Homo sapiens: one gene and its partner. The protein of the gene in region 2 interacts with the protein of the main gene of each other region in a pairwise test. Each region holds a gene or a part of one and is shown on either strand. Other genes may lie near its edges.

Evidence for each region.
Region 1: the proteins of ENPP7 (region 2) and LRRC73 interact in binary tests that used the Homo sapiens proteins (3 or more experiments, as listed by UniProt).

The regions. Positions count from the first base shown.
Region 1 is NC_000006.12:43,507,323-43,511,793, forward strand, and holds the start of LRRC73 (leucine-rich repeat-containing protein 73), read right to left. Parts: upstream 3,025-4,471; 5' UTR 2,464-3,024; coding exon 2,192-2,463; intron 1,599-2,191; coding exon 1,438-1,598; intron 1,099-1,437; coding exon 976-1,098; intron 605-975; coding exon 504-604; intron 357-503; coding exon 134-356; intron 1-133.
Region 2 is NC_000017.11:79,729,203-79,733,797, reverse strand, and holds the start of ENPP7 (ectonucleotide pyrophosphatase/phosphodiesterase family member 7 precursor), read right to left. Parts: upstream 2,856-4,595; 5' UTR 2,752-2,855; coding exon of another isoform or gene 2,659-2,751; coding exon 2,406-2,658; intron 291-2,405; coding exon 145-290; intron 1-144. UniProt on the Homo sapiens protein: Choline-specific phosphodiesterase that hydrolyzes sphingomyelin releasing the ceramide and phosphocholine and therefore is involved in sphingomyelin digestion, ceramide formation, and fatty acid (FA) absorption in the gastrointestinal tract.

The DNA of each region.
Region 1 (4,471 bases), on a different chromosome or scaffold from region 2:
AGAAGTGTTCAGACCACCATTCCTTCCTCCAATGGGGACCACAGATAGGTGAGAGCCTAGGTTCTGCACACCCACTCTCCCTTGTCCCGAGCCTCTTCCAGACCTGGCTCTGATCAACCCTCTGGGTTCTTACCGCTGGGGCACATCCAGGAGCTGCTGCCTCTCTGGTGGGCAGCAGGCTCCCGCCCTCTCTCCCATTCCTGGGTGTCGCCAGCCCCTCCTGCCACTTCCTCCTCCTCCTCTCCCTCAGAGAGGAGGTCACAGATCTGTTGCTGCAGCTCTGGGCTAATGCTGTTCTCAGCCAACACCAGGCTCCGCAAAGCTGTGGGGTAATTTTCTACCATGTCCAGCAGGGTCTGAAGTGGGGAAGAATATGGAAAAGGATGAACACAGTTAAGGCAGGTCCTCAGACCTCAACCTGCCATGCCTTAGGTATGTCATCAGACACATAAACTAACCTCCACCCCATCCCCTGGCCGTGCCCAAACATGACGACTTCCCACCTGAGCTGACTGGTTGGTGAGCCCTGTGCCCTCCAAGTCTAGGACCTCTAGGGTACGACTAGAGGCCACAGCTACAGCCAGCATTCCTGCCACATGGTCACCTGGGGAGACAACACACGTGCACACATTCATACACATGCCTGCTAATCCTTACAGATAGCTTCCCCATTGCCTTAACAACTTTAGATACTAATCCCTGGCCAAGGAAACATGGACAATTGGTGGTGGTCAGGAAGGGATCATTGTGATTGGTGAGTGAAGGCACGAAGCAAGTTAGGCCCACGGGTGGTGACTGATGTTTTGATCTATTTGTTGGTCACCTGGTCCGCCACAAAGCTATCTCCTTGACCCCTGGGGGCTCCCGTTTCTCTTCCCTCTCCCAGTGTACGGGTTACCATGTCAACTGATGGTCCCAGGCTCTTGGATAGGGCATGAGGCAGTGACAGCCCAAGGGGGTATTCTTGAGCCTCACCCAGGGGGTTGTAATCCAGATTGAGGACGCGGACCTGGGAGCTGTGGGCCACGGCAATGGCAAGGCGGCTCCAGCCCTTAGGGGTGATGCCAGGGTTGGCACTCAGCGTTAGCTCCTTCAAGCCTGGGCAGCATCATAGCAAGAAACCAGAATAGGGAGGGTTAAGCCCTCCTCCAGCCCTTCCCCACAATCCCTGTGTCTCTGGGGTGTCCCTAGTGGCTGGGCACCACCTTACCCCCACCATAGAGGTCAAGAGCCATTAAGGAGGCCCATGCTTCCTCTGCCTGCCCCAGCCTGGATTCCTGAGTCTCCATGCTGCCCCCCGTCCTGCCCCTTCCTGAGAGGAGTAGAAAGATGTTCTCGCCCACATCATCAGAGCTCTGGGGCCACACCCCCTTCCCTCTGCATTTCGATTTTCATCACTGCCACACTAGCCCAAGCCCTCAACAGGGTCCTGCTCACCAGATTTGGCCCCATCTGGGGGCAGGAGGCCACAGATGAGGTTGATGGCTTCATCACCCAGCATGCAGTCCCCCAGGTCCAGAGCCACGAGGGCAGGGTGGAGGGCCAGGGCTGGGTTCAGCAAGGCCAGCCCCGCATCTGTCAGGGGGCTCCCATGCAGGCTGGAGGAGAGTGAGAGAGCAGGGTTACTGCAGTCCTCCGCACTATCTACATGGGAAAGGGGCACTTTCACTTCTGTCAGCCCTAGGTATGGGGAGGGCAGTCACAGCGCTTGAGAGGCCTGGAAAAGGAGAAGGAAAGTTCTAGATTCTCAGGGAATACAGATAGAGGGAGAATTCGGTTTGTTTTCTGGGGCAGGGATCCAGGACATTGCACAGGGAGGGGCAGAGAAGGGGTGGGTGGGTGGTGGACCGGAACTCTGCAGTGGGCAGGGCTCTCGTCCCCACGGGGATATTCCCCCTTGGGAACCAAGGAGCTGCCCCAGTGAAGTAAATGCAGATGATTAGGTGGGGAGGTACGGCCCCCACCTCATGTCAGGAACTGGTGGGTATCCCAACACGGCTAGGGTCGCGCGTGCAAAGTCCAAGCATGTGCTTGGAGGGTGCTGTGAAGGCATGGGCCGAGGCACGGTGTATGTGCATAAGGCATGTGAAGGTAGGATGGTACTGGAAGGAGTGTGGAGGAACAGGAGGTGCCAGGGGAGTGTATGGAAGGGTGCAGTGCCCGGGACCCCCTTGCGAGGGGGCGCACTCACAAGAGGGACTGGATGGAGCGGTTGGTCCGCAGAGCCTCAGCCAGCTGCTTGATGCGGCTGGGGCTGGACACGACGCCCAGGTTAAGGTTGAGCTGCGCCAGGGACGTGGCCCCGGCCAGGGCCCGGCAGATGCGGCCAAAGTCGCGGTCGCAGAGGCGGCAGCCGCGCAGTGAGAGCAGGCGCACGGCGTTGTCGCGAAGGCCGCGGCAGATGTCCCGCACCTCGGCGCCGGACAGCGGCTCCCCCGAAATCTGGATGGAGCTGGGCAGCATCGTGCCCACGGCTGGGCCTCCGGGTACGGGGCCGGAACGGAGGTTGGTGGGGCCGCGGGCGGGGCCGGGGATAGGGCCGGGGTCGGGGCCCCGGCAGGGGTCGCGGGCGGAGTGGGGCCGGGGGTGGAGGCGGCGGCTGTGGCGGAGGCTGCGGCTGCGGCGGAGGCTGCGGCGGGGGCGGAGAAGAGCTACCGGGACTGAGCCGGAGCCGGCCAGAGGTGCGGAGGCGTCCAGGGCGCGGGCCGGGCTGAAGTGGGGCGGCGCTGGGGCGGGGGCGGCCCGCACGGTCCGTGTCTGGGCGTTGGGGCGGGTGCGCGTTCCGGGGGTTGGGCAGGCGCTGCTCGGCGCTTGTCCTTGTCCCTCGCGGTCGCGGCGGCGGCGGCGGCAGCGGCAGCGAGCGGCTCAAGGGCTTCGGCTTACCGGTCTCGGCTAGGAGGCCGTACCCGCTCCCTCCTTCTCTGCCGCCCGGCTCCCCCCGACCACCCCGCGGGCCTGGCCGCACGGCTGGCAGAGAGAGCCTGAGGCGGGCGGCTGGCGGCAGCTCCGGCTCCAGCTCCAGAGAGCGAGCGGGCGGCGAGTTCCCATGGCAACGGCCGCGTCACCGGCGCTCGCCCCGCCCCCTGCCCGGCCAAGGCCACGCCGGCCCGCGAGGTTCGCGTACACTGGGTGGTTCGGGGCAAGGAGCTGGGAGCGATAGGCCGCTCTTCCCTTGGGAGTGGGGTCAGCCAACTGGCAGGCGGCAGGCGGCAGGGCTGAGTGGGTAGGGCTGACGGGGAGCGGAATGGAGGCACGCCCCGTGGAGATGGCGTTGGGCACGGTTACTGCTGCTTCTGCCCATTCTTCCATCCTTCCCCGTTCCTAAGGTCCATACCCCCGCCGGAATCCAGGGCACTGTTCCCTCCTATTTGGAAGGCCCCAGGGCCCTTTCATCCGCGCCGCGCCTCGCTCCCGCCCCCGTGACTCGAGGCGCAGCGTGCGTGGTGATCCCGGCCCATGGGGACTTCCCCGCTTGCTCCTCGCCAAGATGGCGGCCTCATCAGGGAGGCCCCAGGGGCCACGGCTGGGCAGAGCCAGCTTGAGCTGCTGGGGAGAAGGGTACCCCATAGGGTCCCTAGGGCAGGGGAGCCTCAGATAGATGCAAGGTCCTGGTGCCACACCTTCTCAGGTACGCAGGGCACTGTTGACATCTGAGGGTGTGTCCGTGCCGCGAGACTGGGGCAGCCAATACAAAGAAGGTGCCAGGGCCAGGGCCCTGGAGCACTGGTGAGGACGTGAAGGCGGCTGAGCCACACTGCACGGTGCAGGCGGTGCTGTCTCAACTTTGTCCTCTGGCCAGGGTGGTGGGGGACTCACTTGTGTAACGCAGGACAAATGAAGGGCACCTCTGTTTGTCCCTTTGTTAGGAGGGATAGATGCTGCTGACCCAGATTTACTAGTGTTAAGATGATTATTTTACATAAAATATAATATTCAATATAGTGAAGGGAGGTCAAAGGCCCTATTCCCACTCTTAGCCACCTGAATTAACTTATTAAGTGGAGCATATTAAAGAGGTGGTGGGGGTGGATGGTGCTATGTTAGGAGTGGTGGTTGGTTTTAAGAGGAAAGACAGAAAAACTAAAAGGAGCTGGCCCCAGTACCACCAAGGCAAAGCCAAATTTGGCTTCAATTAAGAGCTCCACAGGAAAATTATCAACACAATGCCCAGGTGCAGAAGATCCTTGTTTTGACACGGGGTTTAAGTCGGGATGTTTTGTTCAATTGTCACTGCTTCCTTGGCTTCCCAAGAGAGCAGCTGAGCCCAGACTCAAGCTGGCTGCAGTGTTCCATCAGGCTTATGGCTTTTGTGCTTGAGGCCTCCCTGCCGCTTCATGGGTCAGGTGTGATATTCAATCACTGCCTTCTATGTAGTCTGGCCTGTCCCACCTTTATCTTGCCTGGGTGAGGATATGAAGAAGGGAACATATGACATTACCACTGTTGACTGAGTAGGAAAGTATATAGGAAG
Region 2 (4,595 bases):
CCCTTCTGTGCCAGGGTAGGCCAGGAGCCCCGAGACCCTGGAGTGGGGAAGGGACCTGCCGTGGATCTCACATGGTTCCAAGCCTCACCTGGGCCTAGGTGCCCCCGTGCTCTGCGATGTCAGTATGGGCGGGGGTGACATTACCTGCCTCTGGGCTGTGATCCAGATGGGCACGCTGCCGTTGTCCCACCACCTCTGGATGCCCAGCGTGGCGTGGTAGGGCAGCTTCACCTTGCTGGTGGTGTTGTAGTACATGTTGTGAACCACCCCGTGGTTCTCGATATATTTGCCTGAGGGAGGAAGAGGTGCAGAGGGCGGCGGGATGGACCGGGGTCACAGCGAAGGCCGGACCCAGGGCTGGAAGAGGCGAAGTCAAAACAGCCCAGGTTTCCCTGTGTGCTGGGTGGGGAGTGGGCCTGGGGCAGGGCTGGGGGGAGCAGACTTCCTCCTGCACTGCCCCGTGGGAGCCAAGGTTCGAGGTCATGTCTGAGACAAATAGACACGTGTTCTTTGACCTGTTTTAGCAATCGCACTTCCACTTTCAGTTTGTCCCACAGCTGGACGGGCACACAGGCACGAATGCGTGTGCAGGGATCCTGGTGGCAGCCTTGTTTGCTTTAGCAAAAGATTGCGGGTGACCTCCACGGCCGTCAGGAAGGAACTCATTAAATAAATGATGGCCCAGCCATCAGACGAGATCCCAGGCAGGAATTTCAGTGAACTACGTGGAGCTCCAGGAGATTTTTTGAATTTATTTTTGTACAGGAAACACGTGCACATGGTACTAAGTCCAAAAGGTGCAAAAGGAGAGATGATGTGGAGAAGGTCCCTCCCGTCCTCATCTGCGATACAGAGAGCAAAAGAGGCGCTGCGCAGACGGGAGACCCGCACACCTCCGTTTGCGGTTAGAAGGGGCAGAAAGGCTGGTGTGGGGATGAGCTGCCTGTGTTGGGGTGGATGGTGTCCCACCACATTCATGCTCACTTGGAACCTTAGAACGTGGCCTTATTTAGAAATAGGGTCTTTGCAGATGTGATTAGCTAGGGTAAGGGGATGTATACCAGAGAAGTGTGGACCCGAAATTCAGCGACTGGTGTACTAGTGAGAAGAGGAAAGTTTGAATACAGACACACACACACAGGGGAAAGGCCCTGGGGAGACGTGGGGAGAGGTCGGAGTGATGCTGCCGCCAGCCCAGGAATGCCAAGGATTGCCGAGGCCCCAGGAGCCAGAAGAGGTGAGGAGGGAGCCTCTGCTGGAACCTTCCGGGTGGGTGCAGCCCTGCAATGCCCTGGGTTTGGCCTTCTGGCCTCCAGAAGCATGCGGATCCGTTTCTGTGGGTTTAAGCCAGTCTGCAGATCTTTGTTGCAGGCGCCCTGGGACACCCACGCAGGGTCTTTGGAGGATGACGCAGGTTTGGGAGGTGGCTGAGCCCCTAGGGAGGGCCAATTGCTTTTCAATTCTCTAACACCTTTTTTGTGGTACTTGGCTTTTTATTATTTTATTATTGTTTGTTTTTTTGACACAGGGTCTTGCTCTGTCACCCAGGCTGGAGTGCAGTGGTGTGATTGCAGCTCACTGCAGCCTCTACCTCCTGGACTCCAGCAATCCTCCTGCCTTGGCCTCATATATATATATATGTGTGTGTATATATATATATATATACATATATATATGTATATATATATGTATATATATATTATATGCAGTCTTGCTTTGTCACCCAGGCTGGAGTGCAGTGGTGCGATCTCAGCTCACTGCAACTTCCACCTCCTGGGTTCATGCAATTCTCCTGTCTCAGCCTCCCAAGTAGCTGGGATTACAAGCATGCACCATCATGCCTGGCTAATGTTTGTATTTTTAGTAGAGATGGGGTTTCGCCATGTTGGCCAGGCAGGTCTCGAACTCCTGACCTCCAGTGATCCGCCCGCCTCAGCCTCTCAAAGTGCTGGGATTACAGGCGTGGGCCACTGAGCCTGGCCCCATATTTGGCTTTTTAAAAACCTATGTCTGTATTGTCTACAGCCTGGGCAGATCTGTCAGGGAGGTGTTGGGTGGAAAATGGAAAGGATGGAAGGGAGAGGGAGAGGCTGACACAGCCAGCTGGAGGGGCGGGCAGGGGAGGGGAGCCATGGGAGCCAGCGGGGAGCCCGCCACACTCCCCTCCTCCTGAAGCCTTCTGGGGTTGCTGCCCTGGCTGTGGCCACGGGTTTAAGGACCCCCCTGGTCATTTTTCTTTGTCCCGGATCTGTTGCTACCAACGGTGAGGATTCCTAATGGTCCCCTTGGCTCTGTCCTGTGCCTGGAGCAAGGACCTCTCCCCTTTATCCTGCACGACACGGCTCTGTGCCATCTGGTTTCTCAGGCCCTCCCACCCCCAGGCCCCGTCACAGGGCAGTACTCACCGGTGACCAGGGTGAAGTGGCAGGGGCTGGTCATGGTGACAAAGGCGGGGGTCATGTAGCGTGCCTTCACCCCGTCTCGGGCCATGGCGTCCAGGTTGGGGGTGTCCACGTCCTGGTCGTAGTTCCAGCGGAAGCCGTCGAAGGACACCAGGAGCAGCTTGTTCTGGGAGCCCTGACTTTGTACCGGTGCTCCGGCCCCGGGAGCCAGGAGCGTGGCCAGAGCCACAGTGAGGAGGACGGCCGGGCCTCTCATGCTGGGCCTTCCAGATGGACAGGCACACAGGGTGCACAGGGCTGGCTCCTGCCGAGGAGGACAAAGTCCCAGGGTCACCCGGGCTGATCTCATCCCGTGCGCCTTTGGAATGTGGCTGTGCACATCCCCGGGTCGAACCTCGGGAGTGGGCTCCCCAGCCGTGTCAGTGCCACCCCTGGTCCCAGCCTCACGTGCGTGGGGTGGCATCAACTTGAGCATCTGCCTTTATTGCCAGCCGCGCCCTTGGTGCTCCAGGCTCCTCCCCTCCCTCCCCAGAGTGGGGACAGTGACCCAGGGCTCAGAGCACAGCAGGAGCCCATTCCACTGGGAAAGTCGTGCCCTCTCCCTCTCCCATAGCAACAGGTGGTCCCTCTGTCCCAGCTCACCCTGACCCCAGGGGACCCAGGTGAGGCTGGGGTGGGACCCCCTCTCCAGGCCTTTAGTGGTGCATGGGCCTCAGGCCTGCCTGGGTGAGGGCCTGTGGGGTGGGCTTCCCATGGTCAGGGCCAGGACCAAGCCTGGGTCACAGCATGGCCTTGTCCGGGGGGAACCCCAGGCTGGGTGCCTGTTCTCCTCCTGGTCCTGTTAAGGGGCTCCTTGAGCGTGGTGAGCAGACCGGGAACCGGATGGCTCCAGACCAGCGTCCTGTGGGCCTTCCTTCTTGGGATGCTTCCTTCTTGGGATGCTTCCTTCTTGGGAATTTCAGAGGGTGCCTGGGGCTCGGACGTTCTTGCTTGATGACAACAAGGGGTCAGAAGAGGGGGACTCCCTTGTTACCATAGGCACATGAAGGGTGGGAGAGGAACCCCTGGATTCAGTGTGCGGTTCTCCCTCCCTCTCCCCCATCTCTCCTTCCCCTTCTCTTATTTTCTCTCTCTTTCTCTGTCTCTCTCCCTCTTTCCTTCCCTGTATGTCTCTGTCTCAGTTCCTATTAAGCACGTTCTGTGTGCCAGGCATGGTTCTAGGTTCTGGGGACACAGAAGTGAATGAGACAGACAATGTTCCTCGTGGCCTCCATTCGAGTTGGGGACACAGAAGATAAAATGAACAAACAAGAAAAAAAGAGTTTCCCAAAAGAAGGGAAGGCAGGAAGACGTGATGGAGAGGCTGGCGGGGTGGGTGGGCGGCACGCAGTGGTGGCTGGTGGGGTTTCGCTGAGAGGATGGTGGAGGCCAGTGACTCTGGGGGACCATGAGCTAGGGGAGCGGGCATGGGGCAGGTGGCAGGGGTGGCAGGGCCAGTCCCGTAGGGCAGGTGGCGGTGATTCTCATGCCAGGCAGTGGAAGCCAGGCGGGGGTTTTAAGCAAGAGAGTGACATGAACTGATCTAATGCTAAAATATACTCTCCATTTGTGGGTGAAGGATAGACCAGAACGAGGGCAGAATGGACACTGGGTGCTCCCTGGAGAGGTGACTGCCTGTGTCTGAGCAAGAGCTATTGGTGGCCCGGACCAGGGTGGTGGCTGTGGGATGGGGCTGGGTTTGAGGCGGATCCTGGAGGTTTTGCTGGGAGGTGGTGCGCTGGATTGCATGGTGGGAGGTGGTGCACTGGATTGCGCGGTGGGAAGACGGAAGGGCATGGTTGGAGGTATTGTCACAATTTCAATCTGGAGCCACACACCTGCCGACAGTGGCCCCGGCCTTCCTTAAGACCTTTGGCTGGCTGCAGCAAGCAGACGCCGTCTCGAAGCGATGGCCGTGGCACTCAGATGACACCGCAGACGCCGTCCACAGCCTCCCCAGGCCAGCCAGCCTTTCCTAACCCAGGTGGGCAGGGACCACTGGTACGGATCCCCGGCTGCCCCTGCCTGGCCGACTGGAACACACTCTCAAGGAGGACTCCGTGCCAGTGACCCCTCTTCTTCATGCTTCTGTGCACCAAAAGCTGAAAACCAGGATGGAGCGACTGCCCGGTGCCTGCAACCACCGCGTGGGGT